Linked DNA regions of Homo sapiens. The protein of the gene in region 2 interacts with the protein of the main gene of each other region in a pairwise test. Each region holds a gene or a part of one and is shown on either strand. Other genes may lie near its edges.

Region 1 (7,000 bases), on a different chromosome or scaffold from region 2:
GGAGATCGATACCATCCTGGCTAACACGGTGAAACCCCGTCTCTACTAAAAATACAAAAAATTAGCTGGGCGTGGTGGCGGGCGCCTGTAGTCCCAGCTACTCGGGAGGCTGCGGCAGGAGACTGGTGTGAACCCGGGAGGCGGAGCTTGCAGTGAGCCGAGATCACGCCACTGCACTCCAGCCTGGGCGACAGAACGAGACTCTGTCTCAAAAAAAAAAAAAAAAAAATTGCCGGGCATGGTGATGCATGCCTGTAGTCCCAGCTACTCAGGAGGCTAAGGCAGGAGAATCACTTGAACCTGTGAGGTGGAGGATGCAGTAAGCTGGGATTGGGCCACTGCCCTCCAGCCTGGGCGACAGAGCGAGACTCCGTCTCAAAAATAAATAAATAAATAAATATTTTCCTCATTGTGATGTGATGTGAGGTTTCTCAGCCTCACACGTGATAAGTGCACAATCCTCCTGTCCCCTCCCTAGATCTCATTGTTTCCAGAACAAAGATGGATCTGTCCAGCACAGCCTTTAGACTCTGAATCCCGGATGGCTAACATCATATGCAGAGCGTGAGATGGACACACTTGTGGCACCCTCGTAAATCACTGCTTCACTCGGCACAGGAGCTCAGATTCTTCTCCTTTTGTCCTGTGTTCCCTATTCTGTGCAAGGCAGATATCCTCTTATTTTATTTTATTTATTTTGGTGTTTTTTGAGACAGAGGCTCTCTCTGTCACCCAGGCTGCAGTGCAGTGGCGCCATCTCAGCTCACTGCAACCTCCGCCTGCTGGGTTCAAGCAATTCTCCTGCCTCAGCCTCCTGAGTAGCTGGGATTACAGGTGCCTGCCACCATGTCTGGCTAATTTTTTGTATTTTTAGTAGAGATGGGGTTTCACCATGCTGGCCAGGCTGGTCTTGAACTCCTGACCTTGTGATCTGCCCACCTCGGCCTCCCAAAGCGCTGGGATTACAGGCGTGAGCCACCGTACCTGGCCAGATATCCCTTTATTTATTTGTTTGTTTGTTTGTTTATTTTTATTTATTTAGAGACAGGGTTTCACTCTTGTTGCCCAGGCTGGAATGAAGTGGCACAATCTCAGCTCACCGCAACCTCCGCCTCCTGGGTTCAAGCAATTCTCCTGCCTAAGCCTCCTGAGTAGCTGGGATTATAGGCATTCACCACCAAGCCCGGCTAATTTTGTATTTTTTTCTTAGTAGAGCCGGGGTTTCACCATGTTCACGGGGCTGGTCTTGAACTCCTGACTTCAGGTGATCCACCCGTCTCGGCCTCCCCAAGTGCTGGGATTATAGGCGTGAGTCACCGCACCCAGCCGATATCCATTTATTAAATGTCTCAGAGGGCCGGGTGTGGTGGCTCATGCCTGTAATCCCAACACTTGGGGAGTCCGGGGGGGGCGGATCACGAGGTCAAGAGATCGAGACCATCCTTGCCAACATGGTGAGACGTCCTTGACCTGATGTCACTTTTTCTGTCTGTTTTGCAGATTTCTAACAGGCAGTTGCCCTGGGCCACCTGGTGGCCTGAAATAACTTGACCGGGAACTAAAAGGACTCACGAAGCATTTAACCAAGACTCTACATGTTGACTTTTCAGCCAAGGACACTTCAGAGCGACTGGCTGCAGTTCTCCAAAGGAAGCTGCTGCCAGTTGCCCCTGGGGGGTTATTTCCTTCTTGGACATCATGACCACAATGGCAGAAATGCATTGATGGCCAGCACTCTGGGGATGAATGTTTTTGAGTGGAAATGAAACATACCAAACTGGTTAAAGACAAAAATGCAGAGTTGGACAAGTTCTGCAGGTCACGAAAGGCCTTTGAAGCAGCCAGGCCCGGTTCCTGCTCTGCTGTATGGGAGGCTGCTGGCCTGAGCTGGAGAGCAGAAAGGCCCAGTGCCAAGGGTTCAGCAAGTACCAGTCCCAGGCCAGGCATTTGCTAATAAGCCAGGGTGACAGTAAGGACAAGGGGACTCTGGTGTGATGTGAGGTTTCTCAGCCTCACTTGTCACACGTGATAACTGCACAACCCTCCTGTCCCCTCCAGGCCTGTGTGAGACAGGAAAGGTGAGGCTGCCTCTCCCTCTGCACCTTAAAGCCACTCGGGGTCTGGGTTTTCCTGAGACTTCCCGGAGCCAGATGCAGACTCCCAAAGGCGCCGATCCTTCCTCGATCTCCCTCCCTCAAGAGTGGCACTAATCAGGTCTAATTTAGAGAAAATCCATCACCTCCCCCCACTGTGGGCTCTGCCACTTCATGCCTTGGTCTCTCCACCTATCAGCCAGCTGGAGCCTGGGACTCAAGGAGGCATGCTTGGAAGTAAGGAACTTCTCTGAGTACGAGGACATCTGGGTGGTGCTGAACACCAGCATGCTTTGCCCCGTGGCCTGGACTGTGCACAGGGCACCTAGAGTGACCTGTCACCTCCCACGCAGGTGGAAGGGTGTGAGAGAGAATGGGCACTCAGTTACAAACATCCCCTTCCCAAACACTTGTGGATCTGAGTCTGAGGCTACTCCTTCCAGGTGAGGGGTTGGCTGCTGTTGTAGCTTGTTACTCTCTTTCTGTCCCTTCTGCCCTCAGGTCTTGACCATGCAGCTTCCCAAGAACAGGATGGGGAATGATATGGGCACATGGGGAGGCAAGCAGCCACAGGCCTCACCTGCTCATGGGCACTGACCGTCCCAACAGCAGGTGGACATGAATCTAACCCACAGACACCAGAGTAGAGGGAGCTGGGCTCCCTGAGTCTGGATGGGGTTCTCACAGGCCCCCACAGGGAGACAAGGGAAGCTTTCTCCAGAATGTGGAGTACGGACTCACTGTGTGAATAAAGTAAATGAGCTGGAGGGGGCGGGACAAGATTTCAAAAAGCACCACTCATACACCCAGGACTGGCAAAGCTGCTGGCAGTAAGCTCTATCATGGGGCTCCCCCACTGCAGGTGAGCTGATTGGCCTCAGCTGGCACCATCCATGCTCAGTGTTTGCCCTGAGGACAAGAAGACATGGCAAAAAAGAGGAAAGTACAGAACACACTCCCACCTGGCTGGTGGGGATATAGATAGTGCAGCTGCTGTGGAAACCTTCAGCTCCACAGAAAGGTAAAGATGGAGCTACCACACCCCGAGTAATTCCACCCCTAGGTATCCACCCAAGAGAAATGAACTCAGGCATTCAAGCAAACACTGGCTCACAGATGTTCAGAGCAGCGCTGTTCACAGTAGCCAAAATGGAGAAACAAGCCAAGTATATAAAATGACAAATGCATAAATAAGATGTGGTATATCCATAGAATGGGATATTATTCAGCCATAAAAATGGATGAGTACTAACACATACTGCAACATGGACTTTAGAAAACATGGAAAGTAAAAGCAGTGAGTCACAAAAGACCACATATTGCATAATTCCATTTATACGATATATCCAGAATAGGCAAATCCACAGAGACAGAAAGTAGACTGGTGGTCGCCAGGGGCTGAGGGGAAAGAGTGGGGAGTAATTGCTTTACGGGTATCAAGTTTTGGGGTAATTAAAATGTTCTGGAAATTATAGTGGTGATGGTTGCACAACATAGTGAATATATTAAAACCTAAAAAATATACTAAAACCTGGCCAGGCGGTGGTTCACACTTGTAATCCCCGCACTTTGGGAGGCGAAGGTGGGAAGATTACTTGAGGCCAGTTCGAGACCAGCCTGGCCAAAATGTCGAAACCCCATCTCTGCTAAAAATACAAAAATTAGCCGGGTGTGGTGGCACATTCCTGTAGTCCCAGCTACTTGGGAGACTGAGGCAGAGAATCACTGGAACCTGGGAGGTGGAGGCTGCAGTGAGCCGAGATCGCACCACTGCACTCCAGCCTGGGCGACTGAGCAAGACTCCATCTCAAAAAAAAAAAATTATATATATATATACACACACACAAAAACATGGCCGGGCACAGTGGCTCACGCCTGTAATCCCAACACTTTAGGAGGCTGAGGCAGGTGGATCACTTGAGGTCAGGAGTTCGAGACCACCCTGGCCAACATGGTGAAACCCTGTCTATACTAAAAATATGAAAATTAGCCAGGTGTGGTGGCAGGCGCCTGTAGTCCCAGCTACTTGAGAGGCTGAGGCAGAATTGCTTGAACCTGGGAGGAGGAGGTTGCAATGAGCCGAGATCACAACACTGTACTCCAGCCTGGGCAACAGAGCGAGAATCTGTCTCAAAAAAAAAAAAAAGTATATATATATATATATATATATATATATATATATATATATAAAATTACATATATACTTAAGAGTATATATTTATATAGAATGTAAATATATATTAGAGATATATATATACTAAAACCCAACCTGAATTGTAAAATGGTTCATTTGTTACATGATTTATATATTTTTGTTTTGTTTTGTTTTGTTTTGTTTTTTTGAGACGGAGTCTCCCTCTGTCACCCAAGCTGGAGTGCAGTGGTGTGATCTCAGCTCACTGCAACCTCTGCCTCCCGCGTTCAAGCAAGTCTCCTGCCTCAGCCTCCTGAGTAGCTGGGATTACAGGCATGTGCCACCAAGAACGGCTAATTTTTGTATTTTTAGTGGAGATGGGATTTCACCATGTTGGTCAGGCTGGTCTCGAACTCCTGACCTCATGATCCGCCTGCCTCGGCCTCCCAAAGTGCTGGGATTACAGGTGTGAGCCACCTCGCCCAGCTGATTTATATCTTTTTTTTTTTTTTTAAAGCAGAATGCACCCATGCCACAGTGCTCCTTCCTGCAGCCTGTCAGGCGTCGGCCCACCCTGCAACATCCAGGATGTCATTTGAGCCCTGGTCACACGAAAGCACTGCATGGGATGAAGGTGGTTTATTTATTTATTTTTATTTTATTATTTATTTATTTTTTTGACACAGAGTCTCGTTCTGTTGCCCAGGCTGGAGTGCAGTGACACAATCTCGGCTCACTGCAACCTCTGCCTCCCAGGTTCAAGCAATTCTCCTGCCTCAGCCTGGCGAGTAGCTGGGATTACAGGTGCCTGCCCCCACGCCCAGCTAATTTTTGTATTTTCAGTAGAGATGAGGTTTCACCCTGTTGGCCTGGCTGGTCTCAAACTCCTGGCCTCAAGTGATCCCCCTGCCTCAGCTTCCCAAAGGTGCTGGGATCACAGGCACAAGCCACTGCGCCCGGCCGAAGGTGGTTTCTTTTAAGCAATACATTTGTATTGAGAAAAACAAGTTCTTGGCCGGGCGCGGTGGCTCACGCCTGTAATTCCAGCACTTTGGGAGGCCGAGGCGGGCGGATCACGAGGTCAAGAGATCGAGACCATCCTGGCTAACACGGTGAAACCCCATCTCTACTAAAAAAAATACAAAAAATTAGCCGGGTGTGGTGGCAGGCGCCTGTAGTCCCAGCTACTCCGGAGGCTGAGGCAGGAGAATGGCTTGAACCCGGGAGGCAGAGCTTGCCATAAGTCAAAATCAGGCCACTACACTCCAGCCTGGGTGACAGAGCAAGACTCTGTCTCAAAAAAAAAAAAAAAAAAAAAAAAAAAAAAAAAAAAAGAAAGAAAAGAAAAAAGGAAAAAAAAAGAGAAAAACAAGTTCTTTTAAATCTCTAGGTAAAAATAAAATAATTTCTCACACACAGCCAAGTCAACTGCATACCAGAGTACCAAGCATAGTTTCCACATCAGAGGCTTAAGCTCTGGGGTAAAAGCATTTTCTTTAACCAGGTGTCTGTTAATTCACTCATATCAAAGAGAAAACTTGGCTGGGTGTAGTGGCTTATGCCTATAATCCCAGCACTTTGTGAAGCCAAGGTGGGTGGATGGCTTGAGCCCAGGAGTTAGAGACCAGCCTGGGCAGTATGGTGAAACCCTGTCTCTATTAAAAAAAAAAAAAAAAATGGCCGGACGTGGTGACTCATGCCTGTAATCCCAACACTTTGGGAGGCCAAGGTGGGTGGATCACGAGGTCAGGAGATTGAGACCAGCCTGGCTAACATGGTGAAACCCCATCTCTACTAAAAATACAAAAAATTAGCCAGGCGAGGTGGCGCGCACCTGTAATCCCAGATACTCGGGAGGCTGAGACAGGAGAATCACTGGAATCCGGGAGGCGGAGGTTGCAGTGAGCCAAGATCGTGCCACTGCACTCCAGCCTGGGCGACAGAGCGAGACTCCGTCAAAAAAAAAAAAAAAAGGCTGGGCGCAGTGGCTCACACCAGTAATCCCAGCACTTTGGGAGGTGGGCAGATCACGAGGTCAGGAGATTGAGACCATCCTGGCTAACATGGTGAAATCCCGTCTCTACTAAAAAATAGAAAAAATTAGCCAGGTGTGGTGGTGGGCGCCTGCAGGAGAATGGTGTGAACCCGGGAGGCGGAGCTTGTAGTGAGCCGAGATCTTGCCACTGCACTCCAGCCTGGGTGACAGAACGAGACTCCATCTCAAAAAAAAAACTATCCAGGTGTGGTGGTGCAAGCCTGTAGCCCCAGCTGTCAGGAAGCTAAGGTGGGATGATCGCTTGAGCCTGGGAGATTGAGGCTGCAGTGAGCTACAATTGCACCACTGCACGCCAGCCTGGGCAACACAGTGAGACCACATCTCAAAAAAAGAAAGCAAAGAAAACTCTTCATTAGAAACTGAACATGCTCGCTGGGAATGATATTCAGGGCACAGGGCAATTCCTTACAGGGGCACACACCCAAGGGCACTGCTGCCACCACATGGGAAGTTGTGACGGGAGGGAGGAGACTGAGGGCAGGACACAAGACATGGAGACACACATTCTGGTCTGTCTGACCATGGAGCTCTGTCCACACCCAGGCTGCCTGCTGGCTCCCAACCACCACACACAGTATCTGGCGTTTCTCACAGGTGTCGGCTTCTCTCTCTCGAGTCCATCTGCTGGCCGTGGACCTGGCTATTCGGGGCAGGCCCATCCTGCCCACCTCCCCACACTCTCTCAAGCCTCTGTCTCTGAGCACTGCAGGTTTTGTA
Region 2 (7,111 bases):
AGAGGTTGGCTTGGGTGACTGAGTTGAAATGAGGTCAGAACAAGGGACAGGGAGTTTCTAGCGTGGGTATTTGGGATGTACATGGTTGCTACGTATTTCTGTCAACAAGGTGAGCTGAAAGTACCTGTAGAATATCTCCAAGGAGAACATACAAAGGATAGCTAGAAACATGAGCCTGAATGTCAGGGTTGGGTGGAGCTAAGGGAATGATGGTGAGATTCATCAGCAAGCTAATGAAGACAGTGGCAGTGGAGGCGAATACAGACAGTGAAATTCCCTAGGGAGAGCTGTGATGTGGCTCAAAAGAGGGCGAAAAACAGTGCTCCAGGGAGCACAAACATTTAATGGATAAGAACAAGGTAATGAAGAAGCAAAAGGAACAGGGTTCAGAAAACCAGAAAAGCCAGTGCCCTGAATGTCTAGGGAGGGAGATTTCTAAAAGCAAATAGTCAATAACATCAGCAACTTTTCCTCTGGTGACAGTGTACTTATTTCTTTTAGTGAAGTAAACTCTGATTCCCCATCCTGGTGTACATATTTTTTTTTTTGAGACAGGGTCTCACTCTGTCACCCAGGCTAGAGTGCAGTGGTGCGATCATAGCTCACTGCAGCCTCAAACTCCTGGGCTCAAGCAATTCTTCCACTTCAGCCTCCCAAGTAGTTAGGACTACAGGTGCACACCACCACACATGACTAATTTTGTTTTATTTTTATTCTTGTTTTTTTGTAGAGATGGGGTCTTGCTATGTTTCCCAGGCTGGTCTCAAACCTCTAGCCTCAAGTGATCCTCCTGCCTTGGCCTGCCAAAATGCTGGGATTGCAAGCGTACGCCACCGCACCTGGCCCTGACATATATACTTTAAGCAGTCAAAGTATTTGGTCCTTTTTCTTTCTCTTTCTCTGCCCCCTGAAACTCTTAAAAGGAAGTTAGGGATAGTTGTCTGGAACATCCCAGTTCCTTATCATAATGTTAAATGTGCACCAGAGCTGGGGGACATTTAAGAGCCAGATACCATGATCTAAAAGATGCTAAATAAAGGTATCTGCTGAAGGTAGGAAAGCACTGGCTTTGGTCTCATTAGTTACCTGTAAACCCGACTTGACAGGTGCACTCATAGGTATCCCGGCTGAGCATATGGCATGTGCCGCCATTCAGGCAAGGTCGAGACACAAAGCATGGATGAGATGTCGAGTACTGGCAGTCCTCTCCTGTAAACCCTGAGGCACATCGGCACGTGGCTTTCCCCAGCATGGCCTGGGCCACACAAGTCCCACCATTCTGGCAGCGGTTCTTCTCACAGGGGTCTCGATGTTGACAATATTCCCCCAAGAAGCCTTCTGGACATCTGTATGGAAAAGAGAAGAGTCCATGAAAACACCTGACTTCTTGTAAGTCCAAAAAATTACAGTAAAACAATACAGTCCAATCAAGAAAGCACGAGATTGTGAATCAACAGACCTACAAGGACCACCTATAAAACTGCTTCCCTTTAGAAGAAAGAGTCCTTAGAGAACTTAACCACATACTCCCATGTCCTTTTGAGTCCTGGCAGGTGACAGAGTATCAGCTGTATGGTCTAGCAGGGTCTGCCATGGCCAGTCAACATGACCCTTATTCAAACGCAAAATGCACCCCAGCTTTTTTTCATGTGTGTACAGGTTGGGATGGTGTAACAGCACCTTTTTTAGAGCACTGTTCGTACTTGTCTGCTTAAATTCATTAACTTTCTCATTTTGACTAAGCCATTTGATAGGATTAAGATGTCCACAATATAATGCATGAACTTGACCCTATTATCCCCTCCAATTTAAAATATGTAAGGTATCATGTGCTTTTCCTCAATTAAGCATTGAGAAATAGTAAGTGCTTCTTTCTCTTATTTCCACTGAAACATCAATTGGCTGATACCTAGTTTTCTGGGTTATGTTCAGGTGGCTGACATTACAACAGAAAAAGGGAAAGGAGGTACAGGAATGGGGAAGAGTTCAAAGGGATATTTAAAAATCTGTTAATATTTAAGTAGGCATTTTTAACCAAATAAAAAGGCACAAAATATAATTAAATAACATAAAATATCTAAGATACCATATAAACACCAAAGTGAAGGAAGGAATCAATTGAAGAATAACATTCTATGATATTTTCCACATTGAGGCACTGAGGAACCTTTTTACATGCCACCCCTTGATTCATAAGATGTACAACCATTTCAAACTGTGTGTATTATTTATGACAATTTTCTCTGAACAATATCAAAAAGGCATGGTAAGTCTCCATTTTCATAATGAAGTTGTTTAAATGGAATCTCTGAGAAGCATTTAAATTAAGAAACACAAACACTTTGATTCTAACTATAAATGCTGCTATATATTTGGCTGGTGCCCCAAATATGTGATTCAACTTATTCCTCGTTTTAGTTTTCAGGGACTAGAAAACTGAATCTAGTAGGCTGTTCCACCATTACCTCAAAGATTACACATTTAAACCAAACTCTAAATCCCCCTCTCAAAAACCAGCTTTTCTGTGCCCAAGCCTTGTTGTCCTGATTTTCCTAATCATTGTGACCTGAAACATTGGGGTCATGAGTGCTTTTGTCTTTGACAGTCATATCCAAGACCTTTCATTAACCATTGGTTGGCAAGGCTAGCTAGCAGGGGTCACAGTTACTGAGAAAAGAAGGAAGGCCAGATACTAGGGAACTAAGACAGAAAATGCCCAGAAGAATTGTGTAGTAGCTAAAATGGCTAAAGGAGAAAACAGGGTGGTGAATAGCTATAGTGGTAGTGAGGTAACTGGCCACAGCCTCTTCACCCCTCCCAGAGCTGCATAAGATAAGCATGGCAGAGCAAGGAGCGGCTAAGGCTCTGGGCATCTTCATGAGTAGGTGTAGCTACAGACCAACAGGCAGTGAAGAAAGTTCATAGCACTGAAACCAAAGATGGCATGCAGGTGACTGTGAGGAGTCTGTATCAAGAAGGTCAGAAGGTCTGGTTTGGAGTTCTGGTGCTGTGACCTTGGACAAGTTACTTATCTTCACTGACTATCCATTTTCTCACATTGTAAATAGTTAATAAGGTCACCTACATCATGAGATTATTCTAAGAACTGAACAAAATCAAGTATGTAAAAAACCTTATAAATGTTAAAAAGTTTTGCAAGTGGGCTGGGCACAGTGGCTCACACCTGTAATTCCAGCACTTTGGGAGGCTGAGGTGTGAGGACCATCTGAGGTCAGGAGTTTGAGAATAGCCCGGCCAACATGGTGAAACCCTGGCTCTACTAAAAATACAAAAATTAGCCAGGGTGGTGGTGCACGCTTGTAATCCCAGCTACTCGGGAGGCTGAGGCATGAGAATTGCTTGAACCCGGGAGGCGGAGGTTGCAGTGAGCCGACGAGATTGTGCCACTACACTCCAGCCTGGGCAACAGAGTGAGATTCCATCTCAAAAAAAAAAGTTTTGCCAAGTGAAAACATCTTTTCTCTCTTCTTTGTGCTTATTGAGGAAAATACAATGCCCCATCCAAATCACAGCTTGATTTGAGAATAGTTTCTTGTGTTGGTTTTTTGAAGTGGAGGAGCAAAAAGTGCCAATGTAGCATAGCTAAAATTAACTCTGAGATATATTATTAAAAGCATTTGCAGCTTATTCAAGAAATGTGTTATGAATGTTAAAAACTGCAACACAATTCTCACTCACAGTGCAGCCCTCTGGGCATTATTAGATGACTCTTCATTCTCCCATATGGGAATTATGCACCTTCTAAATAATGGCAAATTTTTAAACGTGGGTGGGCTTTGCTCAGCTTTGCTCCTGAACTATTACACCACCCTAACACTATCATGTGGCATATGCTAAGAGAATGCAAAGTCATTTAAATGGTAGCATCATAAACATATAATGGAAATATAAGGTTCCCAGGAAAACAAAAATGAAGCAAAATGGAAGTTTCTAAAGCTAAACAGATGTATTTCTGAATTATTTGTTTCTACAGTTTAATTCACATTGTTGCTCCCTATCAAGTATGGAAAAATAAGTTTTAACCTAAGATATATTTAAGAAATCAGTAAAACCAGAGATTGACAAAGTACAGTTTGCAAGTCTAATTTGGACCACTGCCTGTTTTTGTTTGGCCTGTGAATAGTTTTTTACATTTTTAAATGATTAGAAAAAAAGAACAAAAGAAGGATATTTTCTGACATTTCAAAATTATATACAATTCAAATTTCAGTGTCCATAAATAGTCTTACCGGAACACAGCCATGCTCATTCATTTATAGATTGTCTATGGCTGATTTTCCACTACAACAACAGAGTCAAGTAGCTGTAATGAGACCACAAAGCCTGCAAAAATAATTACTCTCTGGCACTTTACAGAAAAAGTTTGCCAACTTCTGAGTAGAGAACATATGAAGGCTAATTCTATAAATACCATCCAATATGCTTATTAATAATGATCGGTTTCTGATAGGAAATCAACCTTATTAGTTTCCACAAAGAATATTAAACTTATAATCGTTCATTCACACAACAATTAGTAAATGCCTATTATGTGCCAGGCATTTTTCCAGTGCTAGAAAAATTCTTACACTCTTGGAGTTTACATTCTAATAGCGGAAGACGAAAACAAAATTACTAAGTAAAAGATGCACAATAGATGGAGTTAAGTGCTGTGAAAAAAAATTAAACAGGAAGGAATGGAGCTGGGGATGAGGGTGTGGGGTGAGCAAAGAGAAGTATCTCAGTTTAGAATAGGAAAATCAGAGAAGACCTTCACTGACAATACTTGAGTTGAGACCTAAATAAGGTGAGAGTAATCATGCAGGTATCTTAGGAAAACACATTCATGAGAAAGGGAACAGCAAATGCAAAGGCCATAACACAGAGAGCAGCCCTAGCGTGTTTGAGAAACAGCAAGAATATCTGGAGCAGCAGAAAATAGATGAGAGCTGTAACTGGGATGTGGATCAATTGGGGCCTTTAAGCCACTGTAAAGAAAGACTTAGGGTTTTCCTCTAAATGGGATAATACTTACATATGAGGTACAACAGACTTACTCTCCTAAAGCCCGTGTACAGAACCACATATTTGCTTTACGTGAAACTAGACCTACTGTATTAATAAAGTTTGATTTCTATTTAAAATGTTTTAGAGGGCTGGACATCAGCTTAGTTCTTTACTTTTACCTTAGAAGATATACAAGTCTCTTTTAACCCACACTTTCATGAGGTCCCATTTCCCTTTCCAAATTATTGTTTCACAGCTAACCTTCTATGACTGTAGCCTAATTTCAGATATTTCTCTTTCTTTTCCATCTACTTCTTACTTATCCCTCTGCAACAAAACTTTAATTCTAATTATTGCTTAGAAACTGTTTTCTAAAAACAATGACTTTCCTCTAGTCAAGTTCAGTGGTCTCATCTGAAACTTCATAAGGAAATTCTCTCTCCTATAGGGAGAATTGCTAACCACTCCATGTACCGTTTTAATCATTTTACCTTGGCTTCTATGACTCCCTCTGTCTAACTCAAAACCCAGTGAAGTCTTAGTCTGGATTGCTGATTTCTCCTTCTTCCCCATCTATTATGGCCACCCTAATGTTTAAGTCTGGACTGCACTGCTCTTTCTCTCAAATGCATTTGTTACTGTTGTTGTTCACTTGGTTTTAAACAACTTCCTTCCTGTAACTGACTCCAAAATACACTGTTCCAGTCCCATATGTTCAGTTTTCTAGAAGTCATCTCTCTATCCTAATATGTGCTGCCACTATTTGAAACTAAACATTTGTAAAAGGAGATCATCTTCCCAAGAAACTTTAATTATTCAATTTTTCTAAGGCTTCCACACACAATTTAAAGTAACTTCATCTCTTTAAGTTGTATATAATTTATTACCACATTCTGACAAGACTTGTTAACTGAATTCCTATAATACTTATCATTCGTGTTCACAGTTTCCTTTTTGATACAAATTCTGATCATCTTAAAAGCCTCAGGCCAGACATCATCTTGTTGCTGGCTTTTCCCCCATTTCCAGCCATCCTTGGAAAAACAGAACCTTCAGATTCAAGAAATTTAATTTCTATCCAATTAAGTAATCATTTCTAAAATATTTCTAAAAGATGATCACCAGCCTCTGCTTGAATACAAGCATGTAGCATGGTGCCGGATAAATCTTGAGAATTTAATAAATGCTTGGAGTTATTATTGTTCTGCTCTTAAGAGTACAGACTCTGGAACCAGACCACCTGGATTTCAATCCCAACTCCACCATTTACTCAATGTGTAATCTTGGGCAAGGTACTAAACTTCCCTGTTGTAAAAGAGATGTAATAACAGTGCCTACTTCATAGGATTTTTAAATAAGGGTAAAGCACTTAGAACACTATCCAGCACATAGTAAACACTATGCATTTGTTAAGTGAAATTACTGGCTGACTACTTCAACAAAAGAACAGTCTTCAATGTGGTGGATTCCACTGTGAGAAAGCTCTTTCTTAATTCTTCAAATTCTGCCTCCCTTCCTAGGTATATACCCGAGATAACTGAAAACATATGCCCACATAATAAAAATGTTCATAGCAGCATTATTCATAATAGCTAAAAAGTAGAAACAACCCAAATGCCTATAAGCTGATGAACAGATAAATAAAATGTGGTATATCCATAAATGAAATATGTGGCCATGAAAAGGAATGACATTCTGATACATGCTACAACATGGATGAACCTTGAAAACATGCTAAGTGAAAGAAGCCACACACAAAAGGCCACATATTATATAATTCCATTTATATGAAATGTCCAGAATATGCAAATCCGTAGAGATAAAAAGTAGATTAGTGTTGCTAGGAGCTGTAAAGAAAGGGAAATAGACAGTGACTACTAAGCAGTAGAGAATTTCTTTCAGGGTGATAAAAATGTTTTGAAATTAGATAATGGTGGTGGTCTCATAACTCTGGAAATACTAAAGTCTACTAAATTAAACACTTTAAAAGGGTAAATTTTATGATACATAAATTATGTCTTAATTTTGAAAAGAACAAACTTTGTCTCTCTACAATTTCCAGGTTATCTCTACCCTCTAGAACAAAAAAGAACAAGCCTTCTGC

Evidence for each region. The genes of interacting proteins can lie anywhere in the genome.
Region 1: the proteins of NOTCH2NLC (region 2) and ZNF837 interact in binary tests that used the Homo sapiens proteins (3 or more experiments, as listed by UniProt).

Annotation. Positions count from the first base shown.
Region 1 is NC_000019.10:58,371,031-58,378,030, forward strand, and holds part of ZNF837 (zinc finger protein 837), read right to left. Parts: exon of another isoform or gene 6,553-7,000; intron 3,624-6,552; exon of another isoform or gene 1,512-3,623; intron 1-1,511. UniProt on the Homo sapiens protein: May be involved in transcriptional regulation.
Region 2 is NC_000001.11:149,449,553-149,456,663, reverse strand, and holds part of NOTCH2NLC (notch homolog 2 N-terminal-like protein C), read right to left. Parts: intron 1,347-7,111; coding exon 1,087-1,346; intron 1-1,086. UniProt on the Homo sapiens protein: Human-specific protein that promotes neural progenitor proliferation and evolutionary expansion of the brain neocortex by regulating the Notch signaling pathway.